Homo sapiens: one gene and its partners. The protein of the gene in region 2 interacts with the protein of the main gene of each other region in a pairwise test. Each region holds a gene or a part of one and is shown on either strand. Other genes may lie near its edges.

What was found. The genes of interacting proteins can lie anywhere in the genome.
Region 1: the proteins of LCP2 (region 2) and LMNA interact in a two-hybrid assay, tested with the Homo sapiens proteins (one large-scale study listed by BioGRID).
Region 3: the proteins of LCP2 (region 2) and NCK2 interact in binary tests that used the Homo sapiens proteins (3 or more experiments, as listed by UniProt).
Region 4: the proteins of LCP2 (region 2) and FXR2 interact in binary tests that used the Homo sapiens proteins (3 or more experiments, as listed by UniProt).

The regions. Positions count from the first base shown.
Region 1 is NC_000001.11:156,131,711-156,135,210, reverse strand, and holds part of LMNA (lamin), read right to left. Parts: intron 809-3,500; coding exon 683-808; intron 407-682; coding exon 236-406; intron 25-235; coding exon 1-24.
Region 2 is NC_000005.10:170,290,554-170,295,914, forward strand, and holds part of LCP2 (lymphocyte cytosolic protein 2), read right to left. Parts: intron 2,820-5,361; coding exon 2,757-2,819; intron 1-2,756. UniProt on the Homo sapiens protein: Adapter protein primarily involved in signaling pathways within T-cells, as well as other immune cells such as platelets, mast cells, and natural killer (NK) cells.
Region 3 is NC_000002.12:105,880,912-105,884,411, reverse strand, and holds part of NCK2 (cytoplasmic protein NCK2), read right to left. Parts: intron 3,085-3,500; coding exon 2,363-3,084; intron 1-2,362. UniProt on the Homo sapiens protein: Adapter protein which associates with tyrosine-phosphorylated growth factor receptors or their cellular substrates. Maintains low levels of EIF2S1 phosphorylation by promoting its dephosphorylation by PP1.
Region 4 is NC_000017.11:7,608,398-7,611,897, forward strand, and holds part of FXR2 (RNA-binding protein FXR2), read right to left. Parts: intron 2,877-3,500; exon of another isoform or gene 2,784-2,876; intron 1-2,783. UniProt on the Homo sapiens protein: mRNA-binding protein that acts as a regulator of mRNAs translation and/or stability, and which is required for adult hippocampal neurogenesis. Specifically binds to AU-rich elements (AREs) in the 3'-UTR of target mRNAs.

The DNA.
Region 1 (3,500 bases), on a different chromosome or scaffold from region 2:
AGCAGACTGCCTGGCATTGTCCAGCTGGAGGGGAGGACAAAGGGTTAGGACTGTGGTGACTGGGAGGGGTGGAGGCACAGGCCTGAGTTGGGCATCACTGCTACAGCCCCAGGTCCTGGGCCACCCTGAGCTCCCTGCCACCATCTGCCTGATCCCCAGAAGGCATAGCCCAGCGTGGGTAAGGGTAGGGCTGCCAAGGGCAGAGGCAGTGAGGGAACCAATCGAGAGCAAGCACCTTGGCAGAATAAGTCTTCTCCAGCTCCTTCTTATACTGCTCCACCTGGTCCTCATGCTGGGCCCGCAGTTCCTGCAGCGCATCCGCCAGCCGGCTCTCAAACTCACGCTGCTTCCCATTGTCAATCTCCACCAGTCGGGTCTCATGACGGCGCTTGGTCTCACGCAGCTCCTGGAAGGGTTGGAGGAAGGACACAGAAACCAAAATCAGAATTAGTTCCTGGGAGGCCAAGACCCAGGGGCGGGGCTCCCTGCCCAGCCCTACTCCATGAGCCACTACCAGCCCCACTTTAACCTGGGAGCTGAGTGCTGGCCACCCCCAACTCCCTGTCCACTAGGGCAAGGGACTCAGGAAGGCGAGCTCTGCACACAGCTGGTCCCCCCTAGCCCAGCCCAAGTCTGTCATCACCCAGCCCCAGCCCTCTGGCTTGCAAAGCACAGTCCCCACCTCACTGTAGATGTTCTTCTGGAAGTCCAGTTCCTCCTTCATGGTCTGCAGCCTGTTCTCAGCATCCACCCGCCGCAGCATCTCATCCTGAAGTTGCTTCTTGGCCTCACCTAGGGCTGCCTCAAGCTGTGAGGAAGCAGGCAGAGATGAGGAAAAGGGGTCACAGAACACAAGAACTGGAAGGAAGCTGAGAGGTGGGCTGCTGCCTGTGCACCCCTTCACACATGTGGAAACAGGTCCAGGGAAGGAGGGCCTTGGATGCCTGCAGGGGTCAGGACATCTACTCACTCACTCTTGGTAGGTACTGTGCTAAGAGAGAAAATATATATCTAATACAAAAAAGTAGCCAGGCATGATGGTGGCACACGCCTGTAGTCCCAGCTACTCAGGAGGCTGAGGCACAAGAATCGCTTGAATCCAGGAGGTGGAGGTTGCAGTGAGCCGAGATCGCACTACTGCACTCCAGCCTGGGTGACACAGCTAGACTCTGTCTCAAAAAGAAAAGATATATGCCCCCCAGCCACAGGACTCCCTTCTCTGGCACAACATAGCAACTGCTATAAAGGAGGTATGTGCAAAGTACTGAGGGGACATGAGAGAAGGAACCAAAGTATGCCTGGGGTACTTTTGGGGGGCTCTGGGAAGGCCTCCAAGAGGCTAAGACCCAAGGGACAGGCTAGCGGGGCCTACAGAGAGCTACTGTCATGATTTCAAGGGCAGAAACAAGCATGTACAGGCACAGAGGTATGAAGGCATGTGTGTTCTGGGGTCTTTGGAAAGATCAGTACTGCTGAAGCCTGAAGTACGGGGTGGGAAGGGATGGGAGAGGTGGCTGGGTCAGTAGGCAGGGGCTGGCTCATGAAGAGATGCCCTTATCTGCCATGAAAAGAACCTGAGGATGTTTGAGCAGGGGAGCACCACGCTTAGATTTTCTTTTTTTTATTTTTATTTTTTTTTTGAGATGGAGTCTCGCTCTGTCACCTAGGCTGGAGAGCAGTGGCGCGATCTCAGCTCACTGCAAGCTCTGCCTCCCAGGTTCATGCCATTCTCCTGCCTCAGTCTCCCGAGTAGCTGGGACTACAGACATGGGCCACCACACCCAGCTAATTTTTGTATCTTTAGTAGAGACAGGGTTTCACCATGTTGGCCAGGATAGTCTCGATCTCCTGACCTCGTGATCTGCCCACCTTGGCCTCCCAAAATGCTGGGATTACAGGCGTGAGCCACCACACCCAGCCGTATGCTTAGATTTTCATTTAAGAAAGCACAGGCTGGGCTAAGTGTGGTGGCTCATGCCTATAATCCCAGCACATTGGGAGGCTGAGGCAGGAAGATCTCTTGCAGCCAGGAGTTCAAGACCAGCCTCAACAACATAGAGAGAACACGTCTTGCCAGGCGTGGTGGCTCACGCCTGTAATCCCAGCACTTTGGGAGGCTGAGGCGGGCAGAACACCTAAGGTCAGGAGTTCAAGACCAGCCTGACCAACATGGTGAAACCCTGTCTCTACTAAAAATCCAAAAAGTAGCTGGGCATGGTGGTGGGCACCTGTAATCCCAGCTACTCGGGAGGCTGAGGCAGGAGAATTGCTTGAACCTGGGAGACAGAGGTTGCAGTGAGCTGAGATCGTGCCATTGCACTCCAGCCTGGGTGACAGAGTAAGACTCCATCTCAAAAAAAAAAAAAAAAAAAAGAGAGAGAGAGAGAGGAGAACATGGCTCTATTTATAAAGAAAAACAGGGCAAGGAAGCACAGGCTGATCAGTGCATCCAGGAAGGGCTGGGGGAAGGGTACAACTGGGAGGCTGGAGACCAGACCCAGGAGGAAGGTGGCCCAGCCTTGGTTCGGTGGTCAACCTGCTGGCTTCTCCAGGTCTTTCCCTGGTATACTATGATGGTAGGGCCTGGGAAGGGAAAGAACCCAGGATGGAAGCTTGGCCACTGACTCTAATCCTGGCCCCACTATGAACAGATGAGACTGTGAAATTAGGAATAAACTGCTTCTTTGATTCTTAGCTTTTATTTATTATTTATTTTTATTTTTATTTATTTATGTTTTTTTGAGATGGAGTCTCGCTCTGTTGCCTAGGCTGGAGTGCTGTGACCCGATCTTGGCTCACTGCAACCTCCACCTCCCGGGTTCAAGCGATTCTCCTGCCTCAGCCTCCCAAGTAGCTGGGATTACAGGTGGCTGCCACCATGCCTAGCTAATTTTTGTATTTGTAGTAGAGATGGGGTTTCACCATGTTGGCCAGGCTAGTCTCGAACTCCTAACCTCAGGTGATCTGCCCACCTCTGCCTCCCAAAGTGCTAGGATTACAGGCATGAGCCACCGTGCCTGGCTATTTTTTATTTTTTTTGAGATAGAGTTTTGCTCTTGTTGCCCAGGCTGGAGTGCAATGGTGCAATCTCAGTTCACCACAACCTCTGATCCTGGGTTCAAATGATTTTCCTGCCTCAGCCTCACAAGTAGTTGTTGGGACTACAGGTGTGTGCCACCACGCCTGGCTAATTTTGTATTTTTAGTAGAGACGGAGTTTAACCATGTTGGTCAGACTGGTCTCAAACTCCTGACCTCAAATGATCCACCCGCCTTGGCCTCCCAAAGTGCTGGGATTATAGGCGTGAGCCACTGCACCCAGCCCAATTCCTAGCTTTTAACATGATAAATTGGAGAAGAGTGTTTTGAAAGTAAAGGCCACTCTATATACACAAAGCATTATTAACACATGTCCCATATGTAATTAGCCATCCGCTTCTGATGGCCTCAATAAATGATCAACTCCAGTCCTCCTTTTCCCCAGAGAAATCACAAGGGCCT
Region 2 (5,361 bases):
CTTTGCCTTTCTCCCCGTCTCCCTGCCTGCCATGGAGATATGATGCCTAAAGGTGGAGTAGCCAACTGACAACTGTTAGGACAGAAGCCACAGGCTTTTTCCATCGGTTAGATGAAGCCTGGGTTCTTGATGTCTTCTTTCACCATCCCCTGGCACCCGCCTATACATTTATTACTTGAAACAGACTGACCTTTATTTGGTTAGGCCACTGTGGTCAGGTTTCTGCAACATGGGGTCACATGCCTTCCCAACTGACACAAGTCTCAAGCTCCTTTTCTCTTCTTTTTATAACTTCTAGAAGCATAGCTTCTACCAGATAAGGATCTAACCTTTTCAGTGGAAAACAAAAATGGCAAAGAAGTAAAGAAAGAAGAGAGAGAAAGAAGAAAGAAAGAAAGAAAAGAAAGAAAGAAAGAAAGAAAGAAAGAAAGAAAGAAAGAAAGAAAGAGAGAAAGAAAGAGAGAAAGAAAGAGAGAAAGAAAGAGAGATGGAGAGAGGGAAGGAAGGAAGAAAAGAAAGAGAGGGAGAAGAAAGAAGACAGGGAAGGAAAGGGAAGGGAAAAGAGGGAAGGGGAGAGGGGAGGACAAGGGAAGGGGAGAGGGGAGGACAAGGGAAGGGAGGAAGGAAGAAAGGAAGGAAAGAAGGCAGGAAGGAAGGAAGGAAGGAAGGAAGAAAGGAAGGAAGGAAGGAAGGAAAAATAACTAGGGCCTTTCACTTTTGCCTTCAATAGCAGAGTGGCCCTGGATATTACAGAGCTGGAAAGGGTGATAGATTAGTAATTAGAGCTTAGATCAAGCGTCCCAAATTGTACCCAGTGCACTAGGGGTGGAGGGTGGGTTTCAGCAGAAGCTGCCTTTACATCCCCCAGTTGCAGGGACAGGCACTGGATTCTTCTTCTTTTCTTCTGGTTCCTATCACCCTACTTTGCACTTCCTCCTCTTCATACAATGAACAGAATGTGCCACATTGTCTGAAGGACTGATAGAGGACTGATTGGAGCAGAGGAAACATAGCTGCCTAGATACCATCTCTCAAACAACCCTGTTCTACCAGGCCTGACACTCGCACCAGGACTGTTGTGGGGAATTACAGAGCCGGGAGGGGCCATCACCCACTATGACCCAGTCCAATGTGCTCAGTCAACAGGGTAGGAAGCAAGGCAGGCTCAGAGAGGGCAAGTACTTGCTCAGGGTGACCCAGGCAACAGGGCGTCGTAGGCACCATCCTCAAAGATGTCTTCCTCCCTTTCCATTCAACTGTGATAAGTCTCTGTTCTCAGTGCTAATAGCACCAGAATGAAATATTTGGGTTTAGCAGTAATTTGCAAGAATGGCACTAAAGCTCCAGGAATTCTACTGACTCAAATCTCAATACAAATAAATAATACTGTTAAAAAGTCAAATGGTATCAGACTAAATTAAGTGTATGCCTTAGTTCAATTAGTAGGTATGTGACATAGAACAAATCACATCACAGCTCTGCATGTGTTTCCTCATCTGCAAATGAGGTAGTTGGAAGCCTTTCTGAACATACCTTTCTGCTATAAAACAAGTTTCTAGAAGGCAGAAATCACATCTTAGCCATTTCTCTATCCCCACCACCTATAATGCTCTCCAGTATGTAAAAGCAGTTCGGGAAACTGCTTGTCAAGTGAACGAATAGGCGAATGAATGAATGATTTAGGTGGACAGTGAATAAACATGTCTTACATGGCACCTGGAAGCAAAACTCAGACCAATAGGAGCACAGGTTAGTTTCAGCACAAGACTTGAGAGCTGCCTAGAAAGGGGCAGATGACTGTGGGTGGTGGTGAGCTCACCATCACTGAAGGAATTCAAGAAGATGTTGGTAGCAGAGATGTAATATAAGAAATGGATTGGTGTTCTCTGGGGGCAAGCTGGAGCTTGTGATCTCTCTGGTCTCATCCAACTGGCCTGAAGTCTCATGGTCAAGTTCCCTTACTGACAGTGTCTTACAGGGAGACACAACTTAGCTTACTCTATTCACTCTGAATTTAAATTAGGAACATCTACCCCCATGAGACCCTTGAAGTCTTATTTTCAAAGAGTAAAGCAAAGTTCCCAGAAAGGATGGATTGGTGCAGTCAGGGTCTTTCTTAACCCATGGGCAAAGGTGTCATTTCAGGGAAAATGCTCAAACCACCTCCCCGACCACAACCTAGCACCTCTGTCTCCACCATTAGAGCTGCATCCTTTTCCCTTTAATGGCTTAGTCTTTAATACATACCTGCACCTTGGTCTTAGACTTCAAGCTTTTTGAAGTATAATACAGTGGAGACAGCCATATCACATGTGTGCTTGATGCAAAATCAGCTTTATGAATTTGGTAGTGAGAAAGAAGGAAGTAATTGAAACAATGAGGGTGATGCCATCCTTTATTCCACTCATGAGTATGTGCTCCAGAGTGAGAGATTGGAGGTGAGAAGCTTCTGTTCACCCATATGGTCCTTCTTCCCCTTGGGCTTCTCAAAGGATGGATGGCATTTAAATAGATTTTCCAGATTATTTGTTTACTATACTTGGATTCCTCCTTAAGGTGTAAGTGGAAGATCAGAGAGGGGTTCTGGATGATAGGATCCTGAAAGGTAGTGAGAGAGGGGGCCCTACCAAATTTCTGGAAAAAGCAAAGGGATCCTCGGGTGTCCCCAGGGAAAGGGTAGGCCAGTTGGCCCTGCAGCCATGGGGAAAAGTGCCGAACAGTCTTGGTTTCAGTGTGTTGGACTAGCCAGAGCTTACCAAGAAGCGAGCCCCATCGATGTGGTACTTCTTCACTGCCTTCTCACAGTCCTTATAGTTGAGCTGCAAAGAGAAGGGGAAGGTGTTGTTAGTGACGGGCAGTCTCTTACCATTGGTTCCTCTCCCTTGCCTGCCCCAGAAACTTAGCACTTTGCGGTACTTGTGGCTAGCCAGGCTCCCCACTGCCCTCCCTTGGCTAACAGAGGGCCCAGTCCCCACCTCAGCCTCGCTTTCACTACCCCCTTGGGACTGCCTGAAATGGAGAAATTGCCTTGCTCTAAGGCTTCGGGGCCAACCCTTACAGAAAGACTGCCTTCAAGGCATGCAGAGCTCTGCCCTATGCTCCTCAGGAAGGAGAGCTAAAAGAAGAAAAGAAATACCATCCATTGTCTCGATGCCCAGAGACGACCTCGGTGTTTCTTTCCATGCTTTCTTCCTAGCATGTTTCTAAACATAATTGAGGTTATGATTTATATTCAATCTCATTATTCTGACTTTTTTCTCTTAAATTACCTAAAGGGATAATATAAACACTGCCTAGTGTTATGCAAACTCAATTTAAAATAATTTTAATGACCACAACATTATTTAATCATGCCCTTATTGCTGAACATTTAGATTATTTACCAAGCTGCTGTTTCAATAATGATAATAAAAACGGCGAACAATTATCGAAAGCTTTCTGTGTGGCAGGCAGTGTACCAAGTAGTTAAACTAGTCTTCAATCATTTAACCCTCACATTTTGCAGATGGGGAATGAGAGGCACAGACAGCAAGTAACTTGCATGAGGTTCCATGGGTTTTAGGTGACAAGTTTCAGAACAGGCTTTAATGTCTCTTTCAGAAATATTCCCCTTTTAATTACAGCATAACTTATATACAGTAAGTAAAATGAGCAAATGAAAATGCAGCTTCATTTGTTTGCAGTACCTCATCCCAATCAAAATAGAGACAATCATGGATACTATTTTGCGAACTTTTTTCTCCCTCTTTGAGATAAATTGTTTAAGTCAGAACCTCAGAACCGAGTTATATAGGATCCATAGGAACGAGCATTTTTAAGATCTTGGTTATTTTCCTAGACCAATCAGCAATCATATGAGGTGCTAGTTTCAACTTGTCCTCAACAGCATAAATGTTCACATTTGAAGTATCTCTCAACTTGCTGCTTTGGGGTGGAGCATTTGAGGTTAAATGTTTCTCCTTGAGGATCCTAGGTTCTTCTCACAAGGGTGGGCCTCATGGTTTGTGGCAGCCTTCTTTTGGAGCACATTTTAAGCCATATTTTTATCTTATAGCTAGCAAATCCAAAGAATAAATACAATTGTTATGAAATCTTAGCTTGGAAGGGTGGGATGATTATCACACTCAGAAAGCTGACTTAGAAGTTGATATTGAAAGCACATCCCATCTATGGAGCCCTGGTATCCCCTTTATCTACAGGCAGTGGGGGGTAAGTGGTTCTTGGAAGAGTCAACTGCCTTTAATTCATCATTCTCACTGTTATCATTATGAGATAAACCAGATGATTTTGAAGAGTGCTAACTTTGTGTCTAGATCAGCAGAGAGTCCTGCAGACTGGGACCCAGGCATTTGATTCTGCTCCAGCAAGATCTAGGCTTGTGGACCTCAAATCTGTATTTTTAAGGAGCACCCTAGACGATTCCTATGGCATCCAGCATTGGTAGGCACTGGTCCAGAAAAGTTACCTGGATTTGTAGTAAGGAAGACTGAGGCCTCTAGAGGGAAAGAGGCTGGTCTAAGGTCACACAGTGAGCTGGGATACCAGCTGGGACCCCACCTGGGATTAGGACACACAGCTCTGAGCCAGTGCCTCTCCACTGCACGACCCAAGGATGTTCTCCTGCAAGTCAAAAGGAATTGGAGAGATTGAACAAATATGTAACATGGTCTCTGTCCTCAGGAGCTTATATTCCAGACACAGGACGAGGTACCCATGTCAGAGACAAGAAGACGCAAAGTCCCACCAGTCTGCATGGGTGTCCCCAGCTAGGAGCCAGTTAATAGAGAAGGTAAAAGGGCAGAAGGAACACGCATTAGGATCCATTTGTCTGCTGAGTGCCTTGCACACATCATTTGCTTTAATCCTCACAACCAACCCATTGGGTTAGTTACTGTTCATATCTCTATTTCACTGATGAGGAAGTTGAGGCACAGAGAGGCAAAGCAACTACAGGAAAGTCGCCAAGCTAGCAGGTGGCAGAGCCAGGGTAAAGTGTGTCCGACCTCAGAGCTGAGTCGAGAGCTGTCTCCAAGGGAGGCCTGACCCCACTACTTGGGTAGAGTTTGCATCTGCAGATCAATTCTTTACATGTCATGTTTGACAGCTAAGATCCATTCCCAAATGACTCTGCGGTCCATTCGTTTGGTAGTTTCTTTCAGGGGGCTGAGGTACTCAGAATCTGAAGGGTTTCTATCCAAGTCTGTGGAGGGACTAGAACTTCCAGGATCACAGATTTGCCTCAGTCTCCTAGTTTCTTCCCTCAGTCCATTTATGGCAGAAGAAGGAACCTGCCTGGGTGCTGTAGATTTGTCCTGGGGTCTGAGATCTCCAGGAAGAAAACTCTCCCTTCCCCCAGCTCAG
Region 3 (3,500 bases), on a different chromosome or scaffold from region 2:
CTGAACCCCTCAGAAACCTTTCCATCCTGGCATGCTGCGAAGGAATTATGTCAGATCATGAACCTAAGGGCTCTTGGTGGCCTAGTGGTGGCTGCGAAAGCCAGCTCTAACCTGAGAAATGCCAAAATGAGCAGGAAAACACATGGGGACGGGGGGAGGCAGTGGATGGTGGGAAAAAAACAAGCAAAGGACTTGTCCACTTGTCCACCAGGACAGGTCCCTGGTAGTCACAGATGACAGCTGAGAACGCCTTGGTTATGAACAGGAAATACAGCAAACCTGGCATGGTTCTGCTGTCAGGAGAAAAGAAGCCACACACACACCTCAGGGCTCTTGCAGAATCCCCATGGAACAAGGCATGCACACTAACAGCTGAAAATGGCCCGTGTCACGGCAAGATCCATCAGGACAAGCTGCCCTGCACAGCATCAGGCCACGTGGAACCTCAGACAAAGACGGTGCTGCTATGTGTGCAGAGCCGATGCAAGTCCCAGTAAAGCTCTTTCCGCCCTATATTCCTAGAATCATATATGTTGTTCCTTGACTTTCTAAGTTAGGAGAGAATGCAAAAAACCCTGAAAGGCCCCCATTAAAAAACTGTTAAAAGGAAATACAAACAATTCGTGCTTTAGTTCTTTAGAAAAAGTTAGCTCATTCTCTAACAATATAAGACAACTGAGACAGTGGGGTGCAGAGTTCTGAGATGAAACCCAGACAATGCATGCATCCCTCCTTATCCAAAGGGACTTGGTCCCTGAATTCAGACAGCAATGACCACCTGTGCATGTTCCACAGAAAAGCCATAGGTCCTCCCTAAGGCCAGCAACCCCGGAGAACACCTTTTTCATCTACCCTCTAAAGTCTTTCCTCTTTTCCCCAAATCTTAGGCAGAAAGAATAATGACTGGGACCAATGTCTCCACACTGCAGGACTTCCTTCTGAGAAGTCTCCTCAAACTCAAAAAATTTTAAGCCAAGATCATATTTTGTGCATTATACTTAGCCCTTAAGGACTCTGGACCAAGCACTTAATATTGTAATTGGTTTTCCAGCGCTTTCTCTAAGTTTCTGCTCGATTGAGTTAAAAGCGCTGCTGTCCTTAATTTGCTTAAGGCTTCAAACACGATCTAAAAGAAGTGGTGCACAGAGCTCTCGTCATGTGAGAACAATTCAATGTGATGTCTTGCCAGGAATGATAAACTCTGGTGACTTGATAAATCTCAGAGTTCAGATTTCAGATGAAGTTAGCTTTCAGCCTGGCATTCCCGTCCAAGCACATGTAAGGCTCCGCAAAATTGATGACACCATAAAGGAGTCCAGTTTCCACCACCACGATGCTCCGTCCTCAAAGAGAGCACATCCCAGTCGCCTCTCTCTGGAGGGCTTTGAATGCCTCTCTGATCAGTCAACAGGACCCTTGAATGAGCACTTATTCATTGTGCCAGTAATCTTTTCAGAGGACAGCAGTGGCAGCAGGTAGTACATACTTACTAGTCTTATAGCGTGCATTTAAAAATGAAATTGAAGCCTCCTAGAACCAATACAATTCAAATACATTAAACTCTATCTCCTAAATGCTTGTTTTGGAAGTCTCTCGATTGTAGAAGGTGTATTCGGAAAGACGTTTGCAAAACTGGTCGAGTATTTCCTTCACACACGAAAAGCCTGCCTTCTGGGATGCAGGCTTGACCCCATGCCTGAAACTCACCGCCCCCAGCCTGCCCACCGCTGAACTGGGTCTGCTGCCCCAGTCGAGTGGCCTCATATCTCCGACTCACTGCACACAAACAAAACTCATCTCTCCCAAGAACCCCTGTTTTCTTTTCAATTTATCTCGTAAGTGCTTTAAAAGCTTTTGAGAGATGAACTCAGTGGCGCTGCCTGCCGTGGCAATGACCTTGGGATTATATGGTTTACAAAGAGAAAGCAAGCAAACAACAAAAGGAGGTGTCAGAAACCAGCCACCAGTCTTGCAAAGAATGCTTTCTCTGGGACACAGACCGAATAGAAACAAAGTAAATCACTCGGGCCTTCTACGTACACAGAATGGGCAACCAGGAGAGAAAATGATGTTTGAGCCTGTGAAATACAAGAGGGGGAATCTTGGGAGAGAAGCAGAACCACCTCTGTGAGCTAAAAACATCTTTTTAGTTAATCTCCCACCTCCAGAAATGGACACCCACTATCCCCAAAACAGATGCAAGTAAATCACGGAGTAGCAAACATTATACTAAATTGCATTCATCTGCGTCTCCCGCTCTTTCTAGTGTACTCACACAATGTGAAAAGGGCGCGGCACACAGACCCACCGCGCAAGGCGCATTTACTGCCTGCAGCCGGAGCTGTGGGCGCAGCGCACTTACCGAGGACTCGCTGTCCCTAATGAGGAAGTCGCCCTCCACGCCCCGCTCGTTGAGGGCGCACTCGGCCTGGTGCCGCGTCACGTTCCCGTAGTACCACTCTCTGCCCGCGAAGCGCCCGCTGGACGAGGGCCCGGTGTAGCTTATCTGTGGGGCGTGCGCAGGGTGCAGGGCAGGCCCGTCACTGAGGACCACCACGTAGTTTTTGGGGACGAGGCCCACCTGGCCCCGGGCATTTTTGCATTTCCACCACTCGGGGTCGTTCTCCGGCTTCTCAATCACCTCCATGGTCTCCCCCTTCTCGAAGTTGAGCTCCTCCTCGGTGACTGAGCTGAAGGGGTACAGCGTCTGGACCACATGCAGCACGCGGGAGCCCTGGCCATTGCTCAGCGAGGCGCCCTTGCGCAGGCTCAGGAAGCTTGGGGACTCCGCAGCCGCCTCGTCCACCTCCTCCAAGACGTAGTTGGAGGGGAACCAGCCGATCTGCCCGTTGTAGCTGCCCCGCCACCAACCGTCGCTGCACTTCTCCATGACGGTGACGCGCGACCCCTTCACCAGGGACAACTCATCCTCCCGCTCGGCCACATAGGCGAACTTGACGAAGGCCGGGATGTTGAGGTCGTAGATGCGGTCGGCGCCGCTGCCATTGGCGGGGTACTCGGCGTCCGTGCTGGGCGTGGGGGACGCATCCCGCGCGCTGGTCTTCCTGCGCGTCTTGCCGAGGCCTGTGGAGACACAGCAAGGCTCAGTGGCGCAGGGCACTTGGGCACCACCACACTCCCTAGCCTACCGGGATTTCCACGCAGTTTCTCTGGCGGTTAAATACAAGGGGACGACACATGGACAGTGCTTACAAACTGTAATTACCATGAGAAAAATACGGTTGCTGGCAGCTGCCTCCTGTAGTTGCGAAGTTACTTAAAGTTGAGAATTAAATTGATCTATTTTATCCATAAAAACATGTCACAGGGCCAGCACAGTGGCTCACGCCTGGAATCCCAGCCTTTGAGAGGCCCAGGCGGGAAGATTGCTTGAGGCCAGGAGTCTGAGACCAGCCTAAGCAACATAGCGAGACCGTGTCTGCAAAAAAAAAAAAAAAAAAAAAAAAAAAAAAAATTAGCCACCTGTGGTGCACATCTGT
Region 4 (3,500 bases), on a different chromosome or scaffold from region 2:
TCTGGCCAATATGGCAAAATCCCATTGCTACTAAAAAAAAAAAAAAATAATAATAATAATAATATATAAATTAGCCAGGCGTGGTGGCACATGGCTGTAACCTCAGTTATTCAGGGTGGCTGAGGCATGAAAATCACTTGAAGCCAGGAGTTAGAGACTGCAGTCAGTCAAGATCATGCCATCGCACTGCAGCCTGGACAACAGGGCAAACTCTGCCTCAAAAAAAAAAAAAGAAGAAAAGAAGAAAAGAAAAGACAAGACTATCCTTTCTTAGCTGAATTGAACTGCCTTTTCATTTCTATCGAAAATCAGGAAGGGCAATTTAATGTATAATGACAGAAGATTGGTAGTTGATGGAGGACTTTTGGGAGTGACAGAAATGTTCATTCCTTTGATTGCAGTGATGGACTCAGTTACATACATGTCAAAACTTAACAAATGGCACACTTTAAATATGTCTACTTTGTTGTATGTCAATTTCAGCTCAATAAAGATGTTTTTTAAAAAAATTAGAGAGCCCATACAACACAGGGAAACCTCATCTCTGCAAAAAATTTATAAATTAGCAGGGTATGATGGCTTGTGCCTGTAGTCCCAGCTATTTAGGAGGCTAAGGTGGGAGGATCACTTGAGCCAGGGAGGTCGAGGCTGTGATGAGCTGTGATTGCACCACTGCACTCCATAGCTTGGGCAACACAGCAAGACCGTGACTCAAAAAACAAAATAAATAAACAAAAATAAAAGAATTAGAGGTTTCAAAAGGCTAATACACAAGAACTATTCATGAGCTTTGCTGCTAGGGACAAAGGCTAAGCTTAGGAGAGAAAACACCAAAAATGCCCTTGGCAAATGCACAGCTCCCACCTCATAGAACTAATCAATCACAAACACTTACCAGATTGCTATTTCCTTACGATGGGAAAATCTAAGCCTGCATTTCACTCTTCATACAAGCCACCTTTCTCGTCTTTAGGGATATGTCTTGCTATAGAGGCTGCAGTCAGTCAAGATCATTCTTGACTGAATGTTCTTTCTTAGAGCCTTACTACTGCCCAAGGCTTTAATTACTACTGGTACTTCCTGGCCTCTTTTTTACCCATGCTTTTTCTTTCTCTGACATTCTCTTCTCCAGAAATGTTTTTTCTACTCTTCATTCAGATTTTTTTCCTTTTTCAAAAAGAACCTGAGTTATGAGCATGTTCATTCAGGTTTAATGCCAACTCCTACTGTTCTCCATTCAAGTCTTCTGAGGCACTTTTACTTCTACTTGCCTGGGTCTCTCTTCCCTTTTGGGTTCTTCCCTTAGCTCCTGCTCAAGTGTCCTCCCCACTCCCACAACCACTAATATTTTATCCATTCCCTCTTCTTTTCCCTGTAATCCCAACACTTGGAGGCCGAGGTCGGTAGATCAGCTGAGGCCAGGAGTTCGAGACCAGTCTGGCCAATATGGCAAAACCCCATTGCTACTATATATATATGTATACATATACATATATATACACATACATATATATGTATATATACATGTATATGTATATATATACATGTATATGTATACATATATATACATGTATATGTATACATATATATATACATGTATATGTATACATATATATATACATGTATATGTATACATGTATGTATATATATACACACACACACACACACATATATATAAATTAGCCAGGCGTGGTGGCACATGGCTGTAACCTCAGCTATTCAGGGTGGCTGAGATATGAGAATCACTTGAAGCCAGGAGGCAGAGGCTGCAGGGTCGTCTGGATTTCTAGAATTATTCCAACCAGCCTCTTCCGCTGACTTTATCCAGTTCTTTACCCAAAATGTCTACTCCAAGCCTTAGAAGTAGTTTATCAAGGCAGGAGTTACACTGACAGAAAGAAGTGGAAAAGAGACAGAGATGAGAATCACTAATTTACTGCTTTTGTGGAGAGATTTCTACTCCTAGATATATTCAAATCGGCTATGCCTATGGTGTAATCCAATTCTCCTCCACCATGTTAGGCTTGGCCCCAGGGTGAGCAGCAATATTACCCTAGTTTTCCCAGCTACCATGACTTCCAAGGCAGAAATGCAAAGCTCAGAATGGAGTAATCTCTCACATTACTCAGCAGTTCAACCAAATCTCACTCAACCCTTATATTTCCAGGGTCTTTTTCCTTCAATTAGTCTCCAAAACTAGCTCTGTCCCCAACTTCATATTCCAATCCTGTCTCTGCTCCTAAATTCCACCCATTCATCCCATACTAGTTTTTTTCTCCAAGGGTATCTGTGGTGGAAGTGAGCCCCAAGTTCTGCTCAGTCTACGCTCATTGTGAAAATAAGCAGGTGAAGGCAAGAGCAGGTGGGTGGAATGTATTAGGGAGCCACCTAGATCCAGAGGATAACTTGATTCAGTGGCCATAGCATCACCTGGCTTTGGCTTCTGGAGCCTGGCACCAAGCCAGCAGAGGAAGAGAGAGCCCCAGGTTCCTAGGTACTTTGGTTTCCTCAAATTAGAAGATATAAAATTGGTCCCCACCTTCACCGTCTTCTAGTTCTAGACTCCCAAAGCAAAGGAGGGGGTTCTAGGAGAAGAGCAGGAACAGTCTGAGTAAAAACCAAGTACTGAAGCTGAGGATGCCATGTTGATTAAGAAAGGAATGGGGATTAGGATATCCAGATGAGGTTTGGAGTAGGAAGATTGCGCCCTGGACGGTGAATACTTCATTTGGGAGAGTACAACTTAAAGAATAAAATACATTAGGCCATTTTGTACGTCTTAAGCCATTTTGTACGTCTTAAGCATGATGACTGCGGTTTCAAGCTCACGGTGAGGTATGCCTCCCTCAACCCTTGTTACGGATGCCAGTCTGACATGAAAAAAAAAAGGACGGAAAAAAAGAGTAAATTCTGACAAACTTAATTTTCAGATAGCTACAAAATAACTTAGATCCCAGATCTAATATTTTATCCTTTAAGAAAACTGACGGGAGGGCGTGGTGGCTCACGCCTGTAATCCCAGCACCTTGGGAGGCCAAGGCGGGCGAATCTCTTGAAGTCAGGAGTCAGAAACCAGCCTGGCCAACATAGCGAAACCCCGTCTCTACTGAAAATACAAAAATTAGCCAGGCATGGTGTTGCACACCTGTAATCCCAGCTACTCGGGAGGCTGAGGCACAAGAATCACTTGAACCTGGGAGGCGGAGGCTGCAGTGAGACGACATCACGCCACTGTACTCCAGCCTGGATGACAGAGGGAGACCCTGTCTCAAATAAAAAAAAAAGGAAAAGAAAGAAAAGAAAACTGACAACAGGGCCCAATTCTGAGAGAGGAGAAAGGGACCTTCCCAAATGTACAATTCCAGAAGCAGTGTAAATACTCCCTGACCCATCCCAAGTTTGCTGAGTCATGAATATTAAATCAGCAGCAAGGTCAAAACGGATAAGTATCTGTAGGGTACTGAGAGTGGAAGATTAGCCTGAATTTAGGGATTTGTGGT